Homo sapiens: one gene and its partners. The protein of the gene in region 3 interacts with the protein of the main gene of each other region in a pairwise test. Each region holds a gene or a part of one and is shown on either strand. Other genes may lie near its edges.

Region 1 (7,331 bases), on a different chromosome or scaffold from region 3:
CCTACAGTGGGGAATACCAGATACTGGCTGCATGAACCCAGTCAGGTCGTAATCAAAGACCAGTTAGCACAGTCCCACTGCCTATAATCTTTCTCCCACAGACAACCAAAGCTTAGATGAAAAACAAAAGCATGCTTTCTCTTCAGAAAAATAAATGGGTATCTCCAACCCTGACCACTCCCCTGAGTTCCATATTCACAGGCATGCATACTCAACATGTTCACTCGGAGGTGGTTACAGGGATTCAATGCATGGACTCCAAAGCCACAATGCTTAGGTTTGAATCCTAGCTACATCACTCACCAGCTGGGTGACTTCAGACAAGTCACTTATAACCTCTTTTTGCCTCTATTTTCTCGTGCTGTAAAATGGGGACAATAATGGTTCCTTGCACATATAATTCTTATGATGATTAAATGAATTAATATAGGTTAAAGTACTTAAAACCCTGCCTGGGACTCAGTTTACGCTTACATAATACTATTTTTACTAGCACTGTTGTTATGACTATGTCTAACAGGCATTTAGAACTTGTGCAAAACTAAATTTGTAATTTTCCTCAGTAAACAGCACCACTATACTTCTAGTTGTTCCAGCCTAAACCTAAAAAATCATCACTTCTCCCTTTTCTTCAAATTCCACATCAGCTCGTTTCCCGTCAGCTCTACCTTCAAAACGTATCACCAATTCTACCGCCTACCATCATCTCCACAACTAACCTCCCCCAGCCCAAACCACCATCATTTCACCTGCAGGGCACAGCAGCTTTCTCCCGATTTTCACTCCATCCGACCCACTCTAATCTACAGTTAATTCTCCATACAATAAAACTTAAATCAGACACCAGTCCCTTGATGCAAACCTTCCAATGGTTTTCCATCACAGTTAGAACAACATCTTTACTTCACCACAGCCTACAAGGGACCCCACGGCCTGCCTGGCCCTTGACCATCATTGGCCACTACTTTCCCCGTTCCCGGCTGTGCTCTAAACACTCTCACTGTGTCTGGACCACCTCAGAGCATTGTCCTGTGCTGTTCCTGCTGTGAGGCCGAAAATACAGTCACCTGGAGCCTGGACTCTGAAGTCAGACTGCCCACGTTCAAATAGTCTCTACCACGTTTTAGCTGTGCAACTTTGGCAAATTCTTAACCTTTCTGTGTGTCAGTTGCCTCATCTATGAAAGGGAGATACTAGGTTACATCAAAAGACTTGTAAAAATTTAATTTAGTGTTCAGAATAGTGCCTTACATATGGTAAGCTCTACTTTTTTTAAGTGTTCATTGCTATTAATTATTCCTCTCTGAAATGTTCTTACCTCAGGCTCTTTCCCTCACACTTCAAGTGTCCCTGCCTTTGAATGGCTTTTCCTGACAGATCCCACCAAAAACAACCTTCCCTGTTCCCCCACTGTCCTCCTTTCTTCCTTCCCTTCACTGCACTTATGACTACCTGAAATTACATTATGCACGTATTGTTCGTTGTCTATTTCCCACTGCAATATGAGCCCTGCTAGGTTGGAGGCTGTCTTCTTTGCTGCTCTATTTCCAGAGATTTCTGACTCACATCTCATCCAGGCTAGGGGACCAATGCGAATCTCCTAATAACAATAGCACACTTAGCCTTTCATTTGCACTCTCGTGATCTCATTTGATCCTGGAAAAACCAACAAACAGATAAACCATCGGCTCTCATTTTAGATAAGAAAAACAAAGTTCCAAGTTTGCGTGACTTGTCCTTGGACACGAAGCTAGTTAACGAATAGAACAAAAATTAGAAGCCCTGCTTTCTGATTCAAAGGCTCTTCCTACCTGGATGAAAAGATATCACACTCCTGAAATGAATTTACAGAAATGTGAACTCTCGAGCTCCTGTATAAATACACCCTGAAGTGTGCACAGTATTCTTCCCTTCAAAGTTCCTGAAGACTACTAGTCCCGGAGTTTGAGAGGCATTATAGTCTAGTAATAACTAATCGATAATGTAGTACCCCTTGACCAAAATATTCAAGCAGTCAGATACGATGATTGGATATTCCAAATCGATACAGCAATCCTTAAAACTCAGTGAGTCTGTGTTGTCTATAATGTGCTAGTTCCAGCACACTGAAAGCTTCCTCTGCAAAACCCAGACAACGGGGGCATTGTAATTGCCAAGAGTACCGTGCTAACGATACCTGTTATTTCTTGGGATCCCCATTCTATCAAGTTTAGTGACAACAGTTCGATCACCCAACAGGCTCCAGTGTGGTATAGAATCAGATGGAGGGAAGGTTGTCGGGGGGAGGCAAAACAGTGAAAAAGTTCCCCTTCTACAAGATTCCTGGTCAAATAGCCAGTGGCTACCACATTCCTCAGAATAACCAAGTGTCTGTGTATAAGCTTTCTCCTAGCAAATTTACACACTTGTGTTATCTCACGTGTTCCTAGTGCTGTGGGAACAACCATTAGGGAGGCCAGAGGCTGCTGTACCTCCCTTTTACACAAAAAAGAAAACTGAGGCAGCAACTGGTTATCTTATAAATGTGTCCACGATGACTTGGTCACTTGTGGGATCCCAACGGCCAGGACATAGGATTCCTATTCTCTGAGAGGAAGCTTCCATCCCCTACTTAACATGTCAAACTCCAAGGCTGAGAGGGGGAAGAAAAGGAATCTAAGTCCCTTTATCACGGAAGAAAAAAAGGGACTCTCCATTTGGACTTTCCGCCCCTTCTAAGGCCTCGCTCCCAGGCTCGGAGACGCGCCCCGCCCCAGGGGAAAAGGTGCTGGCCCGGCCCCACGGGGCGCGGCCTCGCCTCCCGCACCCCAGGTCCCTACCGCCCAGCAGGGCGCGCTGCCACTCTGAGCAGACACCTGTCCCTTCGCCACAATCGGCGACTCCCCAAGGAACTGACGCCCCCAGAGCCACCACCACCGCCGGGACTGCCAGCTGCCAGCGGGCCCCGCAAGCCCTAGGAGCTGCAGGAATCCTCGTAAACTTACAGTTTTCCTACAGCGTGCGCGTCACAGCGGGGTGACGTCACGGGCCCAGCAGTCGGGGAGGTCAAGCCACGGGGCGCGGGCCGCTGGGCCCCCAGGCTCCGCCCTCGCCCCGCCCCGGCGCCGCGGCGGGAGACACGCCCCCGAGCTCCACGCCCTCGAGCTCCACGCACCTCCCCGTAGCAGACACCCCGCGCAGGCGCAGACGGCCTCTGCGCCCGCATGCCTGTGGGCTTCGCCGACCGGGGCGCCTGCGGCGGCGACTGCTCTACCAAAGCCTCACTCAAAGCCTGAAGTCGGGGTTAGAGGAGGAGGAGGGGCCGACAAAAGGGGACGGAGACCTTCAGAAATACTGTAAACAAGCTGTCGCCCTGGGGGCTGGAGTAAGACGCCTGGGTTGTGAGGTAGTTTTTCCACAGACATTGCCCGCCTTCCTCACGTGTTCGTTAAAAGTTCTCCACGTGTGGAAACAGCCATTTGCTCTCCATCAGGTGCTGGCGGGTCCTCAGCCCTGAAAAGACAGCTCTCCCAGGGTCCCTCGCTCCTCCCCGGCTCGACGCGGCTCCCGCTAGACTCCGCCCAGACCCCGAGCAGTCCCCGCCCATCTCTTGACTATGCCCCTCCCACGCCCACTTAGGCCTTGCCCCTGGGTCCCGCCCTTCCGGCTCCCGCCCCTGGCTCCCGGCTCCCGCGGGCCCCCACCTGCCCTTCTTGCCCTGGCGCCGCCTCCAGCCCAGCCCGTTTCTTGCAGATTTTAGCTTCTCCCTTGCCTGCCGCCTTTCCCGTTTCGGCTCGGTGAAGCTACCTATGGGTTGCTGTTCATTTAACAAACGGTGATCCGGATAAACATGTTCACTTCTTCGCCTGGGCAAACTTTCCAGCCCCCGACCCACTCATGTCACGATACCTTCCCGTGTCCAAGTCCGGCTCTCTGCTCCCCACTTTTTTTTTTTTTTTTTTTTGAGACAGAGTGTTTCTCTGTCTCCCAGGCTGGAGTGCAGTGGCGCGATCTCAACTCACAGTACCCCCTGCCTCCCGGGTTCAAACGATTTTCTTGCCTCAGCCTCCTGAGTAGCTGGGATTACAGGCGCGCGCCACCACAGCCGGCTAATTTTTATGTTTTAGTAGAGACAGGGTTTCACCATGTTGGCCAGGATGGTCTCCATCTCTTGACCTCGTGATCCGCCCGCCTCGGCCTCTCAAGGTGCTGGGATTACAGGTGTGAGCCGCCGCGCCCGGCCTCTTTGCTCTTTTATACTCTCAGAAGCAATGAGTTCTGGTTAAAAAAAAGGGCTCGATAGACGGAAAAAATGAAGGCTTAAAGAACTGACAACAAAATATTAACATTTGGCTTGTGGAATTCTTACACTCTCGTAAGCAGAAAAAACAAATGTTATGGCAAAAAAGTGTCTCAGACAAATCCGTCTTGGGGGGAAAAAAATTAAAAGAATGAGAAAAACAGACTTCGGAATAAATAGACCCAAAGGAGGAAGTATTGAAAATGGCAAGATTCACTTTTACAAACTTATTTGGAACCACGGCAGATGGCCAGGGCAGGGATTTTGCAAGGCAGCTCCAGTTGTAAGTAAAACCTGAAACAATGGTTTATTTCCACTCTCATTGAAAGTGCTGTCTTATTTTTACAGGAAAGAGTGATGATGGGAATATTAGGCTTTAATTCGAGATCTGAGCTGGTTAAAAATAAAAACGTTTATTATTCCAGAAAAATCTACGTCAGTGTTTTTAAATGTTCTGATTTGAAAAAATATTTGTATATTTTATCTGAATATTAGTTATTATCAAATGATGTAAAAGAAATTTGTAAAGGCTGTACCATAATTGTAACAATAAGGTTTTTCTGTAGAGCAGAGGTATAGAAAAATTAACATTTTTTAAAGTCCTGCATATTTTTAAAACAGTGATATTTATGTTTTTCCTTGCAAAACAATTTTAAGAAACCTTTAAATTGTTAATAGTTTACATGCTTATAAAATGTTTTATATATATCATTTCTAAAAATCGTAATTTTTTTAAGTGAGTTTCTAGGTATACCTTATGGGAGTGTTTCACAGGTACATGTCATCTGTTATTTTTTGGAGTGGAAATGGGTAAGAAGCATACACCAAATGTATCAAATGTTTTTACTATAGATACTTTTGCCTCTGAAAGATGGCATTGTAGAATATAGTCTTCTCATCGTATTGTTCAGTATACTTTCTCTTGAAATCTCAGGTATTCAAAAAAAAAAGTCGTTGTTTTGCTAGATGCAGGAAAAAAGTAAACGCAGTGAACAAAAGATGGCCAACAGTAAAGGTACCCAAGCAAGGATCACAGTCTCAAGGAATGTCAAGTAGAAATTTGTGGGAAAATACCACTCACGTTCAGTCAACTTTCTGTAACAAACTGGAATTTGACCTAGACAGGAAGTGAGAAGCTAGGGCCAAAAGTGTTGTTATTAAAGAGAGGATCTGCTTTTTTAAAGAAAATAAAACCCTGGACCTTGGAGGTTTAGCACTGGAAGCACTGAGGCCCTCCACTATGGCCCTTGGGCTTTCAGTTCCCCCTTGTGATTCTTTCTCTTTGATATCTGCTGCCCATAGCAATCTGGCTTCCAGAGCCCTCTATGTCAATACACACATCTCTTCCCTTGGTCCTGCTTAGCAAGCTAAGAAAAGCTGAATTAAGACAAAACAGAGTACTTAATGTATGGGGAAAATAAAAGTGAAAGAAATATAATTCCTAATATTTCCTGAGTATTGATTCTGTGCCAAGCATTGCATTATTTCCTTGAATTCTTGCAACTAGATAAGAACTGTTACTATCCCCATTTTAAACACAAGGTAAGTAGGTTAAGTGCCCATGTCACACAGCTGCTGAGTAACACAGTCAAGATTCCAGACTTCATACTTCAGAACCCACAGCCATAACCACTAATCTGTCTCAAGTTTCATACAACCAGGCACAAATTATGCAAGAAACAGAGGGACTTAGGAAGTCCAAAATATGGACTTAGCTCTAAAATACTGACCACAGTGTATGGGTATCTTCTTCACTGTTTTCCATCCCATCTTTGCATGACTGCTTTTATTTGATTTTTTAAGGTGGTCATCATGACCCAGTAAGTTGATTTTGTGATCGGTTAAAGGGTAGCTACTCAGAAAAACACTAATCAGAATCCAAAATACAAAATATCAGATTGTATCACATGTAATAAGGGTATTTTTTTCCCAACACAAATTAGGGGAAACTTTCAGCCACATGTGTGTATTCTGGGTTGCAACGTTAAATGTATTTCATACTATGGATTTCAATCAAAAAAAATTTGAAAAACACTATTATAACCACGCCTTGCCTAACTAACATGCATCATTTATCCTTCAGGATCAAGACCAAGGGAAACAAAATCCCATTCTGCAATCCCCTTACATTCCTCTCTTAAGTCCCAGGATCTGGTTTGATGATCTCTTCCCAGGTAATTGACATAAAAATCAGGTCACTCCTGATTAGAGATAGGCCCTTGTCTCCAACTCAAACCCAAGAATATACTAATAACAACAAAATAACCATCTATAAAACAAGAGTTACACAGGTTAAAAGGGGGCTTATTCTGCCAAAGGAGCAGAGATAGAGACTTTGCTGGAAGAAGACCTGGGACAGAGATTGGAGAGCTCTGGAGGGATGTCTGTTTAATAACAGTCTTACAAGTCTGCAGTTACACAGTTTGCACAGTATTTCATCTCATTTTATCACCTCCCTTCCCTCATCATTTTACTTAGCTAATTCTCCCCAATCCTTTAGGTCTCTACTTTGCAGGAACTGACTCTGAGAAGCCTTCCCTAAGCAGCTTTGGCTCTCTGCATTGCAAATTATTTTAATTGCTTCTTCTCCTAGACTGTAAGCTCTGTGAGAATAGGGGAAATGTGAGTCTTAACCTCGAATCCTCTACATGTAGTATCCCAAATAGATTATCAGTTAATATGTGTAGAGGAATGCGTGGTGAATGGATGGATGAACTCGAATTCAAAGACTGGGTAGCTTTCTTACTCAAGATGCTAGTTATTTTCTAAAAAGGGGATACTGTCAATAGAAATAATTCTGATGAGAAAATTCCTTTAGGAGACAAGTCATTTTGAATGGCAATGCAGCATAACATAGTAAAGCACTGAACAGGGCCAGCTCTGTTATTAACTGGGTACTTTATGGCAAGTCCAGTAACTTCTGCAAGCCTCAAATGGGGTTAGACTTACTAAATATTACTTATTTATTTTTGAGACAGGCTCTTGCCCAGGCTGGAGTACAATGGAAAGACCATAGCTCACTATAACCTTGAACTCCTAGGCTCAAGGGATT
Region 2 (7,744 bases), on a different chromosome or scaffold from region 3:
ATTCAGACTGACTTTCTTGTTCCTTAAACTTGGGATGATGAAAAGGAACATTTACTGTGTGCCAACATGGTTCCAGGAAGGGTACTAGATGCTTTACATTCGACCATCAAAACCTATAGAACAACAACCTCAGTTTTGTTTTATCAAAAAATCTTGAAATCTGCAAGACCCAAAGACATAGAAATCTGGAGAAAAGGAAGCAAAAAAACAAAAGGAGAAGGTCTTAAAGAGAATTAAAAGCAAGTAAAAGAAAAAAAATCGAAGATAAGGGCATAGAAGATGATAATTTATACATGCATTTATCAGATATTAGTGCCAACTATGTCTTTTTTTTCACATTTTTATTTTTTGGCCCAAGGGATAAAAGCACAAGTGCCAACTATTTCAAGACACTTTGCTAGAGACTATGGGGCATACAATGACAGGTCGGACATAGATCAAAAGTTAGCATACTTGACAGTCCCTCTGTACACATTTGACATAGTATCTAGCATTAATGGAGCATAACAGAATTGAAATAACACACTCACCAACAATTAAAATGAAGAGAAATATGAGTCATCTGAGAGATACAGAGTACTGTAAAGTTAGTTCAGAGGAAGAAGGAATTACTTCCGGCTGGAGGGATACAGAGGACAGGGGTGTTTTAAGGAAAAAGTCAGTGCTCACACCAAGCAAAAGGATTGAATCTTTCCCAAGCCTGAGTGGCAGGTTTTACCCACGGCGGTTTACTGGCCATCTCTCTGGGGGTGACCCAAAGGCCTCTTAAACTCTATGCCTACAACCAAATCTGATGCCCGTCATCTTTTCCCCGTGTTCCTTGCCCAAGTTAATGGGTTTATTATCCATTTAGTTTTATTCAACAGATGTTCATTGAGTGTCTGGTATGTGTGGCCACTGGGTCTAGTAAAAGACATAGACATCAGACAAGCAAACACAATAATATAAAAGTACAGAAAAAGCAAAGAAAAATGGTACTGTGAGAGAGAAAAGTATGACGGGGAGTTGAGACTGGGTTTAGACCTCTTTGAAGAAATGACATTTAAACTGAGAACTGAAGGATGAAAGGGAGCCAGGAAGGCTTGTAGTTGAAGGGGAGGTTCCTAGCAGAGAGAACAGACTGGGAAAAGAAACTGAGGGAAGAAAGGGCTTAGCAAATTAGAACTTCAGTTCTCTATAACTACAGCAAAGAAAAAATGGGGTGAGTGTGGTGGGAAGTGAAGGTAGAGAAATAACCAGGGCCTTGTATTTTCTGTTACAAATTCTTAATTATATTCTAAAGGCAAGGAAGCCACCAAAGAGGAGATAGCAATGAAAACACAGATACCATCCCTGCCCTTGTGGGGCATACAGCCTAATGAAAGAAATAAATAAATGATTTCAGTCCATGTCCTAAGTGTTAGGATAGGGGACATACTCAGTGCTTTGAGAGCACTGAGGAAGGACACCTAGGCCAGTATGAGAAGGTACTGCAACAGCTTCTTGATCTGTTATGCAGCCGTCAGTGTCTACCTTCCTCTGTATCTGCCACACTGCAGCCCATCCTCTTTCCTTAACACAAATGAGAGCATGTCAGCTCAAAACCATTCATGGTTTCCCAGGAGATAAATTCCAAACCCTTGATCTCATGTCACTGTCTAGCCCTAACCTTTATCTTCTTGGTTTAAACTTCTACTACCTATCACAATGATGTTCCAACTTTTTTTTTTTTTTTTGAGACACAGTTTCACTCTTGTTGCCCAAGCTGGAGTGCAATGGAGCGATCTCGGCTCACTGCAACCTCCGCCTCCCGGGTTCAAACGATTCTCCTGCTTCAGCCTCCCGAGTAGCTAGGATTACAGGTGCACGCCACCACATCCGGCTAATTTTGACTCAACCTATAGTAAGAAATACATTTTTCCTGTACACACACACATGTCCACATAAAACACTAAGACAAAAGTTTTAAGAAACAATTCAGGTAGGATTAACCTGATACTTTCTACTCATTCTGTGCTCTTTTTTGTTGTTGTTGTTTTCTCTAAATGGTGATTGTGACTTATTCATAAACTGCTAAAGGGCCCTGGCCTGCAGTTTGAAAATCACTGACTGCTCCCTCCACTACTACGTTCTCCACTCGGCCCTTAGCAAACTCTGTTCTTTTGCCATTTGCCCTAGCAGTCCCGGATGCCGGGAATGCCCTACCCTTCTTCACTACTCCTGTACACAGCAGGTTCTGACTGCCCTCTCAAAATGCAGCTCAAATGTTTCTTCCACAGGGAAAGCTTTCCACATACTGCCCCATTCACTATCGTCTCACTCTCGTTGCCCAAGCTGGAGTGCAGTGGCGCGATCTCCGCTCACTGCGAGCTCCGCCTCCCGGGTTCAAGCGATTCTTCTGCTTCAGCCTCCCGAGTAGCTGGGATTACAGGCGCCCAGCACCACTCCCGCCTAATTTTTGTATTTTTTAGTAGAGACAGGGTTTCACCATGTTGGCCAGGCTGGTCTCGAACTCCTGACCTCAGGCGATCCGCCCGCCTCGGCCTCCCGAAGTGCTGGGATTACAGGCGTGAGCCACCGCGCCCGGCCTGTTTCTTTACTGATTTGTCTCCCACATTGGAATGTTAGATCTTTGAAGGAACTGATCTACCGAGCTGCCCCAGTAACTTTAGCACCTAAAATAGTGCATAACACAGAGTACGCCTTCAGAAAACATGAGTGACGAATAAGTGGGAGATGAGACAGACGAGGCCACGGGAGTCTTAGGGGCCTGTCTTAAAGCCGTTTTGAGGTGTCCCTTGCAGAGTCAGGGGCAACGGCTAACGCAAGGTACCCAAGCCAGACCCGGGAAAGGGAGAGAGGGAGGGAGTTATAGCGCCCAGGTGCCACGTTTCAGGGCCTACCAGTAATAAGTGACTGTGCAGGCCGCGCACACCCGCTCGGCTGGGGCTTCGCACACCTCACAGCAGAGTCTGCGCCCCTTGGGGACTGCCAGTGGGTAGATCACATTCATGGTGCAGCCAGCAGTGCTGGTCTCTAAGACGGTTGCCCAGCAAGGATACGCTGAACCCCGGCGTCACGTGACGATCGCGGGGCTGCGTACTTGCCAGCATTTCAAGGGCAGAGGGCGGCGGGACGTGACTCGACTAACATCTGGGTGTATTGCTGAAGTTGGAAAAGGGGAAGAAAGAAAGAAAAAGCAGCACAAAACCCACAAGTCCCACGGGTCAAATGGCCGAGAAACGACTCCCAAGGAGTCCAAGTCCAGAAAGGCCCGTACAGTGGCCGGTAAGGGTCAAACATGGCCAGTTCTTCACCCAGGCTAGGAAACGAACGTGAGGGAACGTGACCCTACCAGATGCCCACCCAGCCGGGGATCCCCCTCGTTGCAGTGTCACTTTCGCTGGGCTCTGGGGCAGAACAACTACGCATTTCCAGACTTGGCGAGATCGGGACCTAGTGTCAAAAGAAGGGTAGTGAACCGCCCACTCAGTACGGCGCGGCGCGTACACCAGGTAGGCGAGAAGGGGCGTGGCGCGGCGGCCGCGAAACGTGCGCAGGCGCCGGCCGCTGCGCTGCAGATGGCGGAAATGGATCCGGTAGCCGAGTTCCCCCAGCCTCCCGGTGCTGCGCGCTGGGCTGAGGTTATGGCTCGCTTCGCGGCCAGGCTGGGCGCGCAGGGCCGGCGGGTGGTGTTGGTTACGTCAGGCGGCACCAAGGTCCCACTGGAAGCGCGGCCGGTGCGCTTCCTGGACAACTTCAGCAGCGGGCGGCGCGGTGCAACCTCGGCCGAGGCCTTCCTAGCCGCCGGCTACGGGGTCCTGTTCTTGTATCGCGCTCGCTCTGCCTTCCCCTATGCCCACCGCTTCCCACCCCAGACTTGGCTGTCCGCTCTGCGGCCTTCGGGCCCAGCCCTTTCGGGCTTGCTGAGCCTGGAGGCCGAGGAGAATGCACTTCCGGGTTTTGCTGAGGCTCTGAGGAGCTACCAGGAGGCTGCGGCTGCAGGCACCTTCCTGGCAGTAGAGTTCACCACTTTGGCGGACTATTTGCATCTGTTGCAGGCTGCGGCCCAGGCACTCAATCCGCTAGGTGCGTGCCCTAGGAGTACCCCTTTTGCCTGGAAGCACAGCCTTTCTTTCCAGCCACTTATCCCCTTACCTCCTGCTTACCCACGGATCTCAGCTGGGGAACCCGAGTTGAGAAGGAGCTGATCCTATATCGTACCTCGCCGATTTGTTAACACCTTGTGTTTCTCTTTGCAGGCCCTTCTGCGATGTTTTACCTGGCTGCGGCTGTGTCAGATTTCTATGTTCCTGTCTCTGAAATGCCTGAACACAAGATCCAGTCATCTGGGGGCCCACTGCAGGTGATGGGCGCTTCTCTTCCAGAGATCTAATCCCATATAACCAATCTTGGGTTAATTTCCTCTTGATCTGGAGATGGCCTTTCTGCATCTGTATTCGCTAGGCACAGGGGATACAGAGATGAATAAGACACCGCCCTCCCTCATGGACCTCACAATCTAGTGAGGGAGCTGGACACAGACATAATTACAATACAGAGTGATAAATGCTCTAGTGGAGGTATGTACAAAGTGCAGTCAGATCATGGGGCGAGTGAATCCTGGGGGAGTCGATGAAGCTTCTTGGAGGAGATGAATTGAACTGGGTTTTAAAAGATGAGCAGAACCGAGCGCGGTGGCTCACGCCTGTAATCCCAGCACTTTGGGAGGCCAAGGAGGGCAGATCGCCTGAGGTCAGGAGTTCGAGACCAGCCTGGCCAACATGGTGAAACCCCGTCTCTACTAAAAAAATACAAAAATTAGCCGGGCGTGGTGGCAGGCGCCTGTAATCCCAGCTACTCGGGAGGCTGAGGCAGAAGAATCGCTTGAAACCAGGAGGCGGAGGTTGCAGTGAGCTGAGATCTCGCCATTGCACTCCAGCCCGGGCGACGAGAGCGATACTCCGTCGCAAAAAAAAAAAAAAACACCAAAAATCAAAACAAAATGAGCAGAGGGTGTACGAAGTGGGAAAGGTCATTCCAGGTGGAGTATGGCAGTAGGAATTTGAAAGTGGGCAGTGGGCTGTGAACCGAAGTGCTTTGGTAAGGCTGGAGAGCTGACTGAAGAGATGGCTTGCTTTGTAGAAGACTTTATTTTCCTTTTTTAAGGAGCTTGGACTTTTTCTTGTGGAGCTAAGGGACACATAAGTAGGAGAATGAGATAAAGTTTTTGTTTGAGAACAACATTCTGGCATCAGTATGAAAGACGAAGTAGAGAAGGAGAAAGTGGAGTGGGTAGATTAGTTGGGGGCTATTGTAGGTTAAGGAAGAAATATGGATAAGGTAGGTGTGGTTGTGATTTTAGATTTTTGGAACCTTCAGGAGTTCTTAGTCATTTATTGGGTGATACAGGTAGGATTTTATTAGGAGAAACTCTTATCTGTGGGGCATTTGCCGACTTTGTAGAATAGTTTATTGAGGTCCTACACTGCTGTAGGACTTAGAGATGAAAGCAGTGAAAAGAAACATACCCTGCCTTTGTGTTGCTTCCTCTGCAGAGGAGACAATAAATAAGTCAAATACATAACTCGTTTAGTAGTGATAAATGCTAAGGAGAAAAATAAAGTATAAATAAACTGGTATATGATCCCTATCACACTAACAGCTTTTTTTTAGGGCAAAGTCTGATGATTAGCTTAGTGATTTCACGCTTTTTAATCTCTGGGATCTTTAGTTTATCCCACAGTTTTTAGTTCTATCTTGAAAGTAACAAAGCAACTGAACATTACCCTGAGAAGGGATTGGGGATGAGGTACTAGGAGTTTTGGTCAAGTGAAAATAAAATCAGTTTCCTCACTGCTAAGTTGTGTTACATGTGACAATTTAAAAATGGAATCTAATAGCCATTCTACCAATGCAAGAAATATTTTAGGCTGAGAGGTTTAAAAACCCAACTTTATTTAGGCTTCTGCCAAATATTTGTATGAACAGATTATTTGTATCTGTTTATTTGAGGGTTTGGTTCAAAAATAAAGGGACATGCTTGAGAAAATATTAATGGTGGTAAGGTTGGCAGAGCATGGCAGGGCTTATTCAGAAGGCATGGTTTGCCCCAGAATATGTATGGAGCCTTGAATTTAGGCATCGCTGTGAACTCTACAGAGCCAAGGCTTTTTTTTTTTTTTTTTTTTTTTGTGAGACAAGGTGTCGCTCTGTTGCCCAGGCTGAAGTGCAGTGGCATGAACACAGCTCACTGCAGCCTCAACCTTCCAGGCTCAAGTGATCTTCCCATCTCAGCCTCCTGAGTAGCTGGGACTACAGGTGGGTGCCACCATGCTTGGCTAATTTTTGTATTTTTTTGTAGAGACATGGTTTTGCCATGTTGCCCAGGCTGGTCTTGAACTGGGCTCAAGCGATCCACCCATCCTGGCCTTCCAAAGTGCTGGGATTACAGGCCAAGCCACTGTGTTCCCCTAAGACTTTTTAAACTAAACATTTAACTGAAAAGTTTGATGGTTGAGAAATCCCACTTAAATTTAATTCCTTAGTTTCCCATGAGATTGACCTGGTAGGTAATGACCATTGTTTGCTTATTAAGCTTTTCTTTTTCCAATACAGATAACAATGAAGATGGTGCCAAAACTGCTTTCTCCTTTGGTTAAAGATTGGGCTCCCAAAGCATTTATAATTTCCTTTAAGTTGGAGACTGACCCCGCCATTGTAATTAATCGAGCTCGGAAGGCTTTGGAAATTTATCAGCATCAAGTGGTGGTGGCTAATATCCTTGAGTCACGACAGTCCTTTGTGTTTATTGTAACCAAAGACTCGGAAACCAAGTTATTGCTATCAGAGGAAGAAATAGAAAAAGGCGTAGAGATAGAAGAGAAGATAGTGGATAATCTTCAGTCTCGACACACAGCTTTTATAGGTGACAGAAACTGAAGTAAAAAGCCCTTATAGGATCAAAAATTGTTCAGGGCTCTTAGAGATGGTGAAAACTACAAAAAAAACCATGGCTTTCATATGGACAGATAAAATGAAAGAAAGGGAAAAGGCAGTGGTGTGTAGGCAAATATGGTTTGGCATTTGTCTTTTAATGACACCTGATATGATGTCATTTTGATTTTGAAATTGAACACTAGAACTGTTAATCACCTTTAAAAAGAAGAGCTTATTGGGAATTATATATTCCTTAAAATATACATGGGGGCCTGAATGTCAGCCATCTTTATACTATAGAAAAAGGATTATGGATGCATGAATGGTCATGCTTTGGAGATCAAATATTGGTTGAATGCCTATGTATGTCAGGCCCTGTGCTGAGCCATGAGGATTAAAAAGATGAATAAACATATCTTGTTTAGGAAATGGATGTATAAAAAAATCAAGTGCAATAAAGTGTGTGTCCAAAAGCTGACACAATGGAAAGGATGTTTTGTTTTGTTTGAAATTTATCAAATATAGTAGTAGGAAAGAAGGATACCTCCCTGAAGATAGATTGTAGAATGGTGAGCTTTTCACTGCATTTACTTTTTGCTTCTTATTGTAGATTCACCTCATGTTTGGGTAATAGTTTACATTTCAAGTATTTTAGGACTGCTTTTCAGTTTAACTTAATATGTCCTTCCACCTGGGACCAGGCAGGGGCCACTTGGTGATCTCTGTCCTGAGGGATGCATTACAGTGTGGTAGAGTATGGGCTAGAAGTCAACTTAGCCAGCTGTGCCACCTATTAGCTTTATAAACTTAGGCATTTGACTTAATC
Region 3 (7,588 bases):
TTTCCTACCTTTCTCCCCACTCCCCATCAGAGTGGTGATTTGCTTTTTTTTAAAAAAATGGGAATTATGGGGTCACAGCAAGTGAAAGAAGAAAACAAAAGTTGTGTACATCAATGTACAAGGTATGGGGGGGTGGGGGTGACCAGCTGGAAACTGAGCCCTTGGTCCCTGATGCCTCGGTCCCCCAAAGTCCTCACTTGGACCTCGCCTTGTGATAAATCCTATTCTCCTTTGCAATTACTTGTTTTCAATTCGGAAGGCTCAGGCTATCCCTGAGTGCTAAGTAGGAGTAAAACAGCACAGCTCTGCTTTGTCCAGTTGAGATCCGTTTCCTTTTTCTATTCTCCCAAAGCACGTATCCTGCTGCCGCTGCCTACTCTGCCTTCCTGCCTGCCCTCACTCCTCCTCCTCCTGGGGTTGTGTTTTTAGTTTTGTGACTCTTTAGAAATCATGAACTTTAGCTATCCCAAAGAATACTCTGAAGAACACAGGATGTGAAAGGCATCTCCTTGGATAAAAACCACAGAACCCAATGCCCGATCACAGGAGTGCTGCTGAGTTAACCTCTGATGTTAACTCAGGCCTCTGCCCTAGTCCTGGGGGAAACGGAACCAGAGAAGCTGGAAATGGAAAAAAATTAAGAAAATATATTGGTACAAATCCAATTCTAGAGCTGAGACCAAACTCTTCCTTGTTATTTGTTCAAACCTATGGGAGAAAAATAATAAAACCTTTTTCTCCTCCCTCCTCTTCGTCTGTGACAAATCCATAAATATAAAAAGATGAGACAGACAAAAGAGAGACAACTGGCGATCATTTCTGAGAAACGTTTATATGCTAACTTGGATTAAATATCCACAAAATCCAAGTTCGGCAAACTCTCTTCAGGCTTTAAAATTCCCAGCTCTACTGTCACACAGGCTGTTCTCAGAGCTTCAGGCCTGGAAAGCATGGCGGAAAGACAGGGCAGCAGAACTCCACCTGCCAGTCACCCGTTGACTCACCATGAAACAGGTGAGTCCGCCTCACTTCCTCAGCTCCACAGGATCCAGACAAAGCAGTCCTGGGCTCCTGAAAGCCTTTCTCCGAAGCTAGGGGTACCGTCTTTAGGGAGTTGGCAGGTCAGTGTAGGTACCAGTTTTGCCACAGTTCTACTTACAGGAGGGCTCTGGACCTTCCCACTCCTAATTCCAGCATGCCCCCTTCCGGGAGAAGGTGGGCTGTGTTCCTTTGCACATTTGCCCCAGTTAAGGAGAAACACCAAACACATATCCACTGAATTCCAAGAGCCATCAAAAGAGCTCTTGAGCTGGGCAGAACCGCAAGCTAGAAATTCCCCAGGAAGAGAGAGACTAAGAGACTCAACTCAGGCCTGCCAAGCTCAGGAGGCCTGGATGGAAACGGATGGGTGGTGGGGGATCAGATTTTTTGTATTCCTTTAAACCACGAAGACAGCTGAGGGCAGCCTGGGGAACAGTGTTAAAGGATCTAGGAGGTTCTGCAAAGGAGTGAATTCTGGGCGCATCAGATTCTTTTCCCGCTATCAGCTCACAAGCCTTTCCGGACCCTTTTACTATCATTGCTAAATGGAACTTATTTCACCAGTTACAAGAGTCTGGAGGCCACGGAGCAAAGCTAGAAAGGCCAGGGTTCTGAGAGTTGGATACTTGTCCTCACTCAAATTTTCCTGGGCCCTGGGCAGGGCCGGGCCGGCCGAGAAGCACAGCCAGCTCGACTCAGCCGAGTGTTGGCCTTGGCTCCTTCCCTACACCTACCTACCCATTCCAACCCCCAAATGGCAAGGACCTCTAAAGCCTGCAGCCAGGAAAATCCGACCCCACCGTAGTGAGTGTGCGCACGTGGGTTTTAATTTTGTCCTGTCTCAACTCCGTTGTCTCCCTGCTCAATCTGACACGTTCCGAACCCTTCAACCTGGGAAGGCACCTGGCGATACTGACGCACAGTCCCGTCGTTTGGCTGCCCGGAGGCGCCTTCCCTGCGGGCGCGAGTGCCACTCGCGCTGGGTCCAGACTCAGCCGGCTTCTCCCGGGAGAGGAAGCCCCGGCCTGGCGGAGAGTAGGAAGGAAAGCCCCGACAGGCCCACGTCCCAAAACTTTGCCTCCAGTCCTCCCAAGTGGAGCTGCAGCTGGCACTCCGAAGTTGCCCCCGCGCCCGGCCAAACTCCCGCACCTCAGACGCTCTTACCTGGCTTGGCGAGCTGCGCCTGCAGAGCCCCGGGCTGCGGCTCGGCAGTCCAACGCAGCGCGGCGGCCGCGGCCAACTCGGCAGCAGGGCGCGGCGGCTGCGGCTGCGACGGCTGAGAGGCTGGCGGCGGCTGCGGGGCGGCGACGGCGTCCCCCGGCGGCGGGGGCCCTGGCAGAGCGCGCAGCGAGTCGGGGATGAGGCTCTCCAAGCTCTCGTTGGCCTGCTGCCGGCGCAGCGCCACCTGCGCAGCCATGACCCGCTGCCGCTCGATGATGAGGATGCACTTCTCGCAGGTGCAGTCCTTGAAGCGGCAGTAACGCTTGTGGCCCTTGAGCCAGGACAGGACGCCATGGTTGCGGCAGCGCGCGCACTTGGGCGTGCGCTGCAGGGGCGCCCGTGGCGGCTGCGACACCGGGCCGCCCATGTACAGGTAGGGGGAGCCGTAGCCGTTCATGCCCCGGGCTCCCGAATGAGTTGGCAGCCTGGCTGCGGGAGAGGGCCAGGGAGCGCTGGACGGCGGGGCTGCGAGGCCCGCTCAGGGGCGGCCTCCGGGCGACGCGGCCCTTGGTCCCGCAGCCCCGGTGGTCGTGTGTGCTCCGGGGCGGCCGGAGGTGCCGCAGTCGTCTCTCCAGCTCCCTTCGCGCTCACAGCTCGGCCTCCCAGCTCACGCCCAGCCAACGCCGACGCGGGCCTCTGCCTTGGGCGCGCAGCCGGGTCGGCACGTCCTCCTTCGCGGAGGCGCTGCGGCGGCTGCAAGGAGCCGGCGACAGCTCTGATTAAGGTCTGAGCCAGCTCTTCTGCAGCTCCCTCGTGAGCCGGCCGGACCCAACACCTCCGCCGCCCTCCCCCAACCCCTCCTCCTTCCCACCGCCACCCCCGCCCCTGGGGTCCCTGTCTCCTTGCACTCCCCGCCCCACGCCTTCCTCCTCCTTTGCGCCCCTCGGGTGCCTGCACTTCACCTTCCTTGCCACCTGCAGCCAGGCCACTCTCGCGGGGGCGCTCGCGGCCCCCTCCTCCAAGCCCTCTCCGCTACCCCAGCCCGCGGCTGGAGACTGCGGCGCTCCAGAACGCGGCGGTGCTCGCGGGGCGGAGAAGGGGAGGACCAGCGGGAGTGAGGGTGGGGGTGCCTGTAAGCGAGTGAGGTGGCCGCTCCGCTTCTCTCTCTTCTCCTCCCTCCAGTCCAGATCTGGCCGCGTTTTTCCGAGCCCAAGGCCGCTTTTATCCCGACATTTGGCCGCAGAAGCTCAGCTCCGGGAGAACTCGAACCTACGGGAGTGTTGCGGTTGCACCCCGGACCTGGGTGGAGTTTAGGATAGGGGAGTGAAGTGATGTTGGTTTAGGAAAGTTAGGCTCTTTTCGTAATTTCCTTTTAGAACGTATTTTTTTCTCTTTTGTTGCTTTAGAAGAAAATGGTTTTGGAGATCTGCCGGCCCAAGGATGACAAGCCATTTTGCAGGCGAATTTTACTTTTCTACCCTCCTGTCCATGTTTTAATATAAAACAGTATCCTGAAAGGTCAGGGACGTACGTGCTCCTGTAAAGGATTTGTTAAGCGCCGGGTATAAACTTTCAAGGGGCAGACACAGAAGCCACATTGGCGCCCCCAAAGTTACCGATATCCTCTTCCCTCGCTCCCAGCAGCTACTGGAAGCAAACGGAGGTCTTGCGCCAGCCACTCAGTTCAAATCCCCACGGATTCTGTGATTCAGTTATGGATATGGGATGGGGCCACTTTTTCACCTCCTTAACCCATAGACCCCAGTCATAGATGTCTTGGGGGAGAGGGTCCTTCACAAGATGACAGCAGAAAACTTTGTTTAGATTATTTGCGTGTTCCCATTCTCCCAGGAGTAGCGGGCTTGGCCTAGTGCAGACTATCGCTATATATGCACAAAGAAGGCCCTCCACCCTCGCACCTCCCCACTGCCCATCAGCAAACAAGCAAAAACCAAAAAACAAACAAACAAACAAAACAAGTGGATACACTGCAGGGCAGCACAATAGCTCTATGCGAAGCGGGGCAGTTCCAGAGCCTTCGGTGGATGCGCTTCTGAGAGCGTGCACCAAGCCCATCTCCTGGTGGGGAATCAAATGCTAGATGAGAGCGTAGGCAAGTCCGCTGCAATGTCCGACCCCTCATGGGCACAGAGGCCCTTGTCCCCTCGGGGAGGCCGCTTTTCTCTGTACTGCCCTGGAAGTAAGCAAGCAACCTGAAAACTTTCCTCTGGTGTTTGCCATGAATTCAAGGGAAGCACCTCCAGGCGTTCTAGCAGCCAACCCTCTGCCCAGAAGGCTGATTTGCGGAGAGGAGGGTTGAAAACCGAACCCCAGTTGTGTGTTTCCCTTGAAGCCCTTAGCTGTTCCCGTTTCATACGCGTCCGGGAGGTGGGGATCGCGGGACACTGACCTGGTAGAGTGTGGACAAGAAGCTCTAGCATTCGAGTGCTAACCCTGGGAGGCCATCCTCCAAAGCCGCGTGGGGTAGGGACCCCTCGGTCTTGCCCCTTCCCCCACCACTTTAATCCTTCCTCTAGTCTCAACCTTCTCTAGGAAAACAAGCCCTAAAATACAACTGGAAGGAATTTTGTAAGCTCTGGGGACGGGAGGCAGAGGTCGCCCCCAGCCCTGTAGGCCCGAGGCTAGGAAATGGGGAGCTGGACGCGAGTCATTTAACGTGCTGCGATATAGAGGGCCTCAAATGACACCTTAACTGAAAACTATTGCGCTGAAACCTCCGGATCTCTTGGAAACGTGGGGACCAACGACTTTTTTCAAAACCAAATTTCTTCCGATTTTCTTCAAACAGTGAAACGAGGAAGTATAAAGAACTTGAGTATGAATAAATTTTTAAAAGGAAAGCAGAAGAGCTCTGCACCAGGTTTGTGGGGGCACTTTCACTACCAAGGCGACCCCTTTTCCCCCGTCGGTCACCTAGCCACCCTATCTCGTTGCCACTCAAACAGTCTGGCATTTGGTCCCGGGGGCCCGTTTCACTCCGGTGCACATCGGGGGCTGAGATCTAAATACTCATTTGATATAGTGCAGTAATCCTTTTCTCATATTTGATGGGAATGTTTTCCATATCCCAGTATTTGACAACATCTCCCTATAGGGACAGGTTTGTATTTATGTTGGTAAAATGTCCCCTGCCTCAAAGTCTATTGTAACCCAACACCTGACAACCCCGAGTCCCATTTCTGTTTGCAGAAAGGGTTTATTCAAGCACATAATGGGATCCCAGCAGAAAGCCTTTCAGAACAAGGGGCTGTGGTAAACTTCACCACATGAACTCCGTTTCCAGGGCTATTAAGCTTTTAATTGGAAAATAGCAGAGGAAATTTCAAGGTGACTATAACGTGTTAGCAGTTAGTGCAGAGAAGAAAAGCCGAAGCGGGAATGAATGTAGAAAGCATATGGTCCAAATCACATTTAGGAGGAGCGGCCTGCTTCTACTAAGTCCCAGTAGCTTACACACTTATGGGAAAAATCATCAAAGAAATGGGAAAGGGAAGGGGGAGGATTACAAGTAAATGTAACCTCACTAGACTAGATCCATTGGTGCTCTCCTGTGGATGGTGTGTTCTCAAACCGCAATTAACTGAGTAGAATTCTGGCAGATAATCGTGGAAGAGGAAAAAACAATGTGCGTATGTGGGTCTTTCTCGGCACACACAATCGCTGGGTGTGTGTACATGTAAAAGCTCAGGATGCAGGTGCCCTTGCTGAGAAAGTGAGGACTCCAGATCTGGGAGTCCTGGTATGTGCTCCTCATCCCAACTAATACTCAATCAAAACGGCAGTTTCCGATTGTCCCGGATGTATAACACATCAGCAAATTCTCTGCTGGATTCTCATGGAAGGGGAGGTCAGGGTTCCTATTTCACTGTTTTCATCGCGACCACGATGATGTCAGTGCAGGCAGACGCTGGAAGCCTGAGCGTGAGGAACCCCTGTGAAAACAGAAAAACTTGTCCCCTCTTCCTGTGCGTGAACTACTCAGCTCTCACCTGGTCAGCTTCTCGACCTCGCTCTTCGGCCCGCTTCAAATTGAAAGGAGTTGGGGGAATGTCCAGCCAGGCAGTGGGGCATCCAGCAATCAATTTCTTTAGATGGCAATAATGTCTTGGTTCTCCCTCAGTTGGCTGGGGACAGACTCATGCAAACCCCCCATGAGATCCCCGAAGCCGCCCTCCGGGGCGAGGGGTGGAAAGCAGAGGCCGCTTGGGGTCGGGGAGACGACTGAACCCCGGGGTCACCGGCCCGGGGATACCGCTGAACAGGGGAAGGTCCTGGACCGCTGTTCCCACATAATTTTGGTAGGGGAAGAGACGGGTCGCAGCCTGAGGCCTGCTCCAGATCCCCACGTGCCGAGGCCTTTGGGGACAAACAGGGAGAGCAGAACGGCCTGTGACCTCGCTGGCCCTAAGCCGACCGGGCGGGAGAAGCCAGGTCCTTCATGTTCTCGAACTCTCGAAGCCAGCAGCGGCTCACGCCTAGGAGTTAGCGCTCTCCCGCTTGCGGATTCCTCAGACCCAGCCTGGATACACGACCGCGCCAGCCTTTCGCGGGGTTCAGGTGTAGCTACAGCACGGCTTCATCCGAGGGCCCAGCGCCGCGACCTCAGCCCCGCGCTTTCGAAGGGAACTGGAAAAGCGCTAGCCTGGGGCGCTCCCCGCTGGGCCGCGGTTCCTGGAGGCCCTGGGGGCAGCCGCTCGTCCGACTCCAGCTCCCTGTCGGGAGCGCCCGCGGCGGAGCCGACGCCCAGTAGTAGGAGGGCGTGAGTCCGGCTGGGGACGTCGGCCGCTTCCCCACACCGTCCTGGAAGGGAGCGTCGCAGACCCTGTCCACCTTAAGTGCAAAGGAAAAAAGGCACGTCTCCACCAACGTACAAATGAGCAGCGCTGATGTTAAGTCTTAAGATAACCTTTACCCTGCGACTTTAGAACACAAGGGCTGAAAAAATAATTTTAGGTAATCTGAGCAACATTCAAGGGAGAAGGAAAGTTTCTTCTCCCCAGAGCGTTGGCTCTCAGGGATCTGGGGCACTTCCTCCTCGGGACAAGCCCCTTTTCCAGAAAACCTCACCAGCCTCCCGCCTCCTCCTTTGCTGTCCCTGAACAAAGCCCAGCCGCGGGGAAAGCAAGCGGATTTGCGCGCTTCTGGGAAAGCGTTCGGATTCAGGGGCCCGGGAGTAATGAAGGGAAACGGCCCGCGCGGCCGACACCCCAGGAACAGGGGGCGCGAACTTTGCCTGGAGGCCAGGCCGAGGCGCCCTGCGGAGGCGCGGGAACTGGGAGGAGGGGAGGCTGAGGGGCGCCACACCAGGACGAAAGTAGGCCCGGGCCCTCTCCTCACTTTCCCAGGAGCCTCCTGGGCGGGGCAA

What was found.
Region 1: the proteins of DMRT3 (region 3) and ZNF438 interact in binary tests that used the Homo sapiens proteins (3 or more experiments, as listed by UniProt).
Region 2: the proteins of DMRT3 (region 3) and ZMYND12 interact in binary tests that used the Homo sapiens proteins (3 or more experiments, as listed by UniProt).

Annotation. Positions count from the first base shown.
Region 1 is NC_000010.11:31,028,849-31,036,179, forward strand, and holds the start of ZNF438 (zinc finger protein 438), read right to left. Parts: upstream 3,018-7,331; 5' UTR 2,985-3,017; intron 1-2,984. UniProt on the Homo sapiens protein: Isoform 1 acts as a transcriptional repressor.
Region 2 is NC_000001.11:42,453,006-42,460,749, forward strand, and holds the start of ZMYND12 (zinc finger MYND domain-containing protein 12), read right to left. Parts: upstream 3,018-7,744; 5' UTR 2,993-3,017; coding exon 2,883-2,992; intron 1-2,882. Other genes in the region: PPCS (phosphopantothenate--cysteine ligase), read left to right, coding at 3,561-4,068, 4,242-4,345, 6,598-6,921. UniProt on the Homo sapiens protein: Required for sperm flagellum function and male fertility.
Region 3 is NC_000009.12:972,073-979,660, reverse strand, and holds the start of DMRT3 (doublesex- and mab-3-related transcription factor 3), read right to left. Parts: upstream 3,007-7,588; 5' UTR 2,660-3,006; coding exon 2,206-2,659; intron 1-2,205. UniProt on the Homo sapiens protein: Probable transcription factor that plays a role in configuring the spinal circuits controlling stride in vertebrates.